Linked DNA regions of Homo sapiens. The protein of the gene in region 1 interacts with the protein of each later gene in a pairwise test. Each region holds a gene or a part of one and is shown on either strand. Other genes may lie near its edges.

Region 1 (3,953 bases):
TCCCCTCGCCCACCCCTTTGTCTTTCCCACGGTGTTCCCATCCAGTAGAAAGGGAAAGTTCCCACTGGCAAAGAGAGGGTCACCAGCGCGATTCCCCCTGCCCCGCCCCACCCCACCCCCACGGCCCTCCAGCCACTTCTAGGCCCAGGCCTGCTCCCTCGAGGCCAATGGGAAAGTGATGAGGTCACCTGACGGACGTGTGTCCCTTGTGAGGGGCCGTCACCACATGCGTGCCCGTCGCCGGATGTGCGTGCCCATTGGTCTCGGCTCCCTAGCCAATGAGGGGCTGGGCCCTGGTCGCTAGGATACACAGTACTGGACGCGGTAACTGTCCTCTTGAGAGCCATCTTGCCTAGCTGGGCCAAGCCGAGATAGCACACTCAACGCCCAGCATGCCGAGGAGGAGGAGACGCCGAGGGTCCTCCGGTGCTGGCGGCCGGGGGCGGACCTGCTCTCGCACCGTCCGAGCGGAGCTTTCGTTTTCAGTGAGCCAGGTGGAGCGCAGTCTACGGGAGGGCCACTACGCTCAGCGCCTGAGTCGCACGGCGCCGGTCTACCTCGCTGCGGTTATTGAGTACCTGACGGCCAAGGTCCCGGAGCTGGCGGGCAACGAGGCCCAGAACAGCGGAGAGCGGAACATCACTCCCCTGCTGCTGGACATGGTGGTTCACAACGACAGGCTACTGAGCACCCTTTTCAACACGACCACCATCTCTCAAGTGGCCCCTGGCGAGGACTAGCTTCTGACACCCGGCCCCTGGGACCTGACAGGTCCACTCGTCCACCCACCCGGCCCCAAATCCCCCGGCCTGAACCCCCGGCCTTAAACACCCTCCCCCCACAACCCAGGCCCCAAAGTCTTGGGCCTTCATTAATTCTGTCAATAAAATGTTTCAAGGAAGCCATCTGCCCGCTTCAGTCACTTTGCCTTGGGGTGGGGGTGGGGGGGCGGTGAGATGGGTTGGGGGGTTGTGAGACCTCCACAGCTGGAGGGATGGAGAGGTGGTGGGGGTCTGGGGTTGGGTGGGAGCCAGGGATGGCACAGAGGAGCAGTCTCTCCGGGTGACAGTGCAGGGGAGTGGCCCTGGGTGGGAAGGGGACACCCCCGCTGGTTCTGAGCAAGTCAGGGCCTGCCCGGGAAAGTCCTCAGCATGATGGTGTTCGTTGGGGCGGGTGGGCCTCAAGACCATGACTGCAGTGTTGCGACAGGACGGACTTCTAAGGCAACCGGGGTGGGGACGGAGAGGTGGACCCGGTGCTTGGCAAGGGGCCCTGGACCGGAAGACGGAGGACTGAGTAGTCGGGGCGGGGGGGGGGGGGGACAACAGTCTAGAAATGCGCAGACATGGAATTAGGGTCACGAGTTTCGTTTGGGTCATGTTCAGATGGAGAGGCTGTGGGATGCCTTTAGCAACCTAGACCACTTGCATTGCAGCCGAGCTAGCAGCAGCTGGTGCCCCGCCAGGCCCCGCGTACCTTCCCAGGGTCTTGGATCCGCATCCCCGAGACCCTCGATTTGCATACGCCGCTCACAGCCCGGCCAGGCCCCGCCTCCGATCCCGCTCTTTGCACCTCATCAGGGCAAGGGGCAGGCTCGGGCTGGGGAGCCGGCGCGGGCACGGCGGCAGCCCGCCGAGGGGGACGCAGGGCACGTCGCCCCGCCCCGGCCCGCCCGCCAGCTGCGGCGGCGCGTCGGGAAGTGCTTGGGGCGGCGAGCATGGCGGCAGCGGCTGCAGGCCTGGGCGGCGGCGGCGCCGGCCCGGGACCCGAGGCCGGGGACTTCCTGGCCCGCTACCGGCTGGTATCGAACAAGCTGAAGAAGCGGTTCCTGCGGAAGCCGAACGTGGCGGAGGCCGGCGAGCAGTTCGGACAGCTGGGCCGGGAGCTGCGCGCCCAGGAGTGTCTGCCCTACGCGGCCTGGTGCCAGCTGGCGGTGGCGCGCTGCCAGCAGGCGCTCTTCCACGGGCCCGGGGAGGCGCTGGCCCTCACCGAGGCCGCCCGCCTCTTCCTGCGGCAGGAGCGCGACGCGCGCCAGCGCCTGGTCTGCCCCGCCGCCTACGGGGAGCCGCTGCAGGCCGCCGCCAGCGCCCTGGGCGCCGCGGTGCGTCTGCACCTCGAGCTGGGCCAGCCGGCCGCCGCCGCCGCCCTCTGCCTCGAGCTGGCCGCCGCCCTGCGCGACCTGGGCCAGCCGGCCGCCGCCGCCGGTCACTTCCAGCGCGCCGCCCAGCTCCAGCTGCCCCAGCTGCCCCTGGCCGCGCTGCAGGCGCTTGGCGAGGCCGCCTCCTGCCAGCTGCTGGCGCGCGACTACACCGGCGCCCTGGCGGTCTTCACGCGCATGCAGCGCCTGGCGCGGGAGCACGGCAGCCACCCGGTGCAGTCACTGCCGCCGCCCCCGCCGCCGGCACCCCAGCCCGGGCCCGGGGCGACGCCCGCCCTACCGGCCGCGCTGCTTCCTCCGAACTCCGGCTCGGCGGCGCCCTCTCCCGCCGCCCTGGGCGCCTTCTCGGACGTGCTGGTCCGCTGCGAGGTGTCCCGCGTGCTGCTGCTGCTCCTCCTGCAACCACCGCCCGCCAAGCTGCTGCCGGAGCACGCCCAGACCCTGGAGAAGTACTCCTGGGAGGCTTTTGACAGCCACGGGCAGGAGAGCAGCGGCCAGCTTCCCGAGGAGCTCTTTCTGCTGCTCCAGTCTTTGGTCATGGCTACCCACGAAAAGGACACGGAAGCCATCAAGTCGCTGCAGGTGGAGATGTGGCCACTGTTGACTGCTGAGCAGAACCACCTCCTTCACCTCGTTCTGCAAGAAACCATCTCCCCCTCAGGACAGGGAGTCTGATCCATCCCATTCACCCAGTGACTTCTTTTTGCCCAGGCCTGGACTTTTTGCATCAGTCACGTTAACCAGATGACTTTGCCTGTTACCAAACCTCATGCATCCACGTTTGCGTCTGGGGAGGAATAAAAAGACATCGTTCCCGCTTCTGCGTTTTGTTATTCCTACTGCCGCCATAGGAATTATTTCGTTGGCTGAACGTTACCAGCACCCCGAGAACACATTTTGATAGAATCAGAGTAGAGGACATGGCTGTCTTCTAAAAAGCCACGACATGAAAATGACAATCCCTTTCGTCTCCTTCCTCCGCTGCTTCCACCTAACGCAGCCTCCTGCCTCCGCCTTTGTTTCATAGTGAGGATTTTATTTTGCACGGCGCCCTCCCTCTAAATACCTACCCTAGATGATTTCATCCTGCCCCTCACTTCTTAACATATTCCTGTGTCTTTGTAATGGCCAAATTTCTCCTTCCACTCGTCCGCACGGTACGTCTTCATGGGAGTCATTTTATTCCTTACAGCTTCCTTGTAACCACAGCCCTAAATCCATGATAAAGCTACTCTTGTACTCCTCATGTGTGGTTTTGGTGTCCGTCGTCTATAAAATGTGACTCTCTTACCTACTTGTCAGGAGGCCAGCAGCAGAACCAGATAGCTGTTTGGGCTCCAGGATGTATTCGTTCCTTTGAAATTTGCGCTATGCCTCCTATGTGGGCAACGAACCTGCAGAGATCATCTATGATGTGCTCCGTACTCGGGTGACTGCAATGCAGATACATCCAGTGCAGCGGGTCTGGTGCCGATGCATCGATTTGCATTGGAATTCACGGTTCTGGTTCCATTCGCAGAGGTATATGCAGTCTGGATCACAACAGCTTTTATTTGTAATAGGGATTTTTTTTTTTTTTTTTTTTTTTTTTCCCCCCGAGATGGAGTCTCACTCTGTCGCCCAGGCAGGAGCGCAGTGGCGTGATCTCGGCTCACTGCAACCTCCGCCTCCTGGGTTCAAGCGATTCTCCTACCTCAACCTCCAGGGTGCCTGGGATTACAGGCGTGCACCACCACGCTGGGCTAATTTTTGTATTTTTAATAGAGATGGGGTCTCACCATGTTGGCCAAGCTGG
Region 2 (3,012 bases), on another chromosome or scaffold:
TCCTAACTCAGTCTCCTGAGTAGCTGGGATTACAGGCGTGTGCCACCATGCCCAGATAATTTTTTGTATTTTTTTAGAGATGGGATTTCATCATGTTGCCCAGGGTGGTCTCAAACTCCTGAACTCAGTTGATCTGCCCACCTCAGCCTCCCAAAGTGCTGAGATTACAGGTGTGAGCGACTGTGCCCGGCCTATGATTTAGTTCTTTATCTGGTTGCATGCACAACTTGTAATATAGAGCAGCAAACATTTATGACCATGAGTATAGCTACCCAATGCTAACTCTGCCAGCTGAAAGGTTTGTGGTGTTGGTTGTGGTTGTGATTGTTGATGAGCCATTAACTGATTTATGTTCAGCCTTTCCCTCTGTAATAAGAGGCACTCACCCCACTTTCATTGTTTGTTCCATTTACAGAAAAAAAATTGTTCCATTTGCTCATTTATAAATAAAATTCTCTTTCATTTTTCTGCTAGAAGTCTTCAAAAAGTGAAGAAGAATGCAATTACCCCTTTTGTGGCACTCATTTACAATAAAAGTTTGCACACTCCTTCCCCTGAATGCATTCAGCAGCTTACTCTCACCCCAGCCCTGAACCGCATTCCTCAGTTAACATGTAACTCTCCATACATTCTGTACTTCTCTTGACTAGTAGAATTGGAGGGGTTTATAATGCTGACAGCACGTTAGCTCAGAAACTATGGCAGCAGCCAGGTAAAAGTTGGAAGTTTCCTCCACCACTCTGCTTTCCCAGACATCTGTCAAGAGCGAGGCCTTGCGCAGCGTGTCCATCTCACCCGGAACGTGGTGCTTTTTTAAACGGAGTCCACCTTTACTACATTATTGTTGGTCATCAGTGGAGACGGTTTCCATTTAACCCTATCGGCCACGTCGTTAGAGCTGTCCACAAAGAACACCCTGGCTGTACAGAGCGAGACTATAATTCTCCTGTATTCCTTCCTGAAATTTTGGTTCAGTAGCCCGTATATAATGGCATTGAGGCAGCTGTTGAAATACGCCATGTAGTAACTGGCCACAAACAGCCACTCTGGGATCCTAGGCACCATGCTGGCGGGGTCAGAGGCCACGGCCAGGCCAATGAAGTTCAGAGGAGCCCAGCAAATGGCAAAAAGGACAAAAACCACAAACATGGTGACAAAATTCCTGAAGTCCTGTGGTTTCAGTTTGGGTTTGCGGTCAGGTTTCACCCTCTGTCTGACCTGGAGAACCAGGATCCATATTCTCAGGTAACAGAAGATGACTATGATCATGGGGACGAGGAAGTGGAAAACCACCACGGCGATGGTGTAGGCGGAGCTGACGGACTGGGCGAAGGTGCACGAGTAGATCCTCGGGTCGTACTGGAGAGTCCCTGCACGGAGGTTGGGCAGGACGGCCGCCAGCGTCAGGAGCCATATGAGGAGCACGTAGCAGAGGGAGTTCTTGCTGCTGTACAGTTTGTCGTACTTGAGACTGTGGCAGATGTAGCAGTAGCGGTTGATGGCGATGCCGGTGATGTTGAATATGGAGCCGATGACGCTCAGGCCCATCAGGAACCCACTGACTTGGCAGTGCAGATAGCCCAGGTTCCACCCGTTGTTAAATATCGACATCAGCACCAACGGGTACGGATAAATGGCCACCACCAGGTCTGCCACCGCTAAGCTCACCACAAAGATGTTTCCTGAAAGAGAATCGTTTAGAAAATACAGTGAATACCAGTTCACAGTGGGTTTTCTGTTACAATTGTTAAAGAAGGAGCTGCTTCTGCAGCTCCGATGACCTGACGTCACAGCGGCGGCCGCACTGCAAATGAAGTGGAGGCCGTTTCCCAGGAGGGCCAGTCCACTGCCGCTCCTGACACATCGAATCCGCTGTTCACACATTCCCACCTCCCCAGAACAGGGCCTGTTCCATGTTCAAAACTGCTGTCTTTCAAACCGTTCGGCTTCTCATCTCTTAAAAAGTCCTGAGATCAGAATGCTTGCACACCATCTGTTGTTCTGGAGCCTTCTACATCACCTGAGAAATCTCATATGATGTCAAGCCAGCCACAACTTCCTTAAGTTCAAGTCTTCATTCCCTCTGTAGTGCTTCAGCAGCTCTCAGGGGGCCTCTAGCTTCTGTTCTTGCTGATCCCATAGAGAGGGAGTTAAGGGCAAGAGGGATCTGTCGTCAGCCGTCTGGATGAGAACATGGCTTCACTCCTTACTAACTGTCCAACCGGGGCAAGTTACTTGATCTCCCCAAGCACCTGCCTCCTCCCCTGGATGATGGGATAATGAGCAGCTTCCTCTTAGGGCTGTGGTGAGCACGAGATGAGACTATCTGTGGTGAGCGCCATGTACCGTGTCTTACACCATAGAAATGTTCTTATTCTACGACTCCCTCACCTTGAACCAAAGGAAAATGCAGAAATTCTCTTAGATCTTATAAAGAACTTACGTTACAAAACTTAAACCCTAAATAGTCTGTTAATTTTCTCAATTAATATAACAACACATATTTAATTACAGAAAAAAAAAACTCTAGTCACTTTTTTATTTTTATTTTTTTGAGACAGAGTCTTGTTCTGTCACCCAGTCTGGAGTGCAATGGTCCGACCTTGGCTCACTGCAACCTCCGCCTGCAGGGCTCAAGCAATCCTCCTACCTCAGCCTCCCAAGCAGCAGGGACCACAGGTGCACACCACCACACCCGGCTCGTTTTTGTATTTTTGTAGAGACGGGGTTTTGCCATTTTGTCTAGGCTGCTCTCAAACTCCTGGGCTCCAGCCATCCACTTGCCTCGGCCTCCCAAAGTGCTGGGATGGCAGGTGTGAGCCATTGCTCCCAGCTACATTAGTCAAATATTATGAGATGTTCTGCAAATATGTTTTTTTTCTTTTGCGGCTCTTCTGCCTCTGTTTCTTACTATTCCTTCTGCCTCGAATGGCTCCTCACATCAACTTTCTAAATCCTGCCCATTCTCCCAAGTCTATCTCAAATAGAAATGCCAGAAGCCTTTGCTCATTT

The links. The genes of interacting proteins can lie anywhere in the genome.
Region 2: the proteins of F8A1 (region 1) and MTNR1A interact in a two-hybrid assay, tested with the Homo sapiens proteins (one large-scale study listed by BioGRID).

Annotation. Positions count from the first base shown.
Region 1 is NC_000023.11:154,884,658-154,888,610, forward strand, and holds F8A1 (40-kDa huntingtin-associated protein), read left to right. Parts: upstream 1-1,697; 5' UTR 1,698-1,717; coding exon 1,718-2,833; 3' UTR 2,834-3,404; downstream 3,405-3,953. Other genes in the region: H2AB1 (histone H2A-Bbd type 1), read left to right, coding at 393-740.
Region 2 is NC_000004.12:186,532,876-186,535,887, forward strand, and holds the end of MTNR1A (melatonin receptor type 1A), read right to left. Parts: intron 1,683-3,012; coding exon 814-1,682; 3' UTR 780-813; downstream 1-779.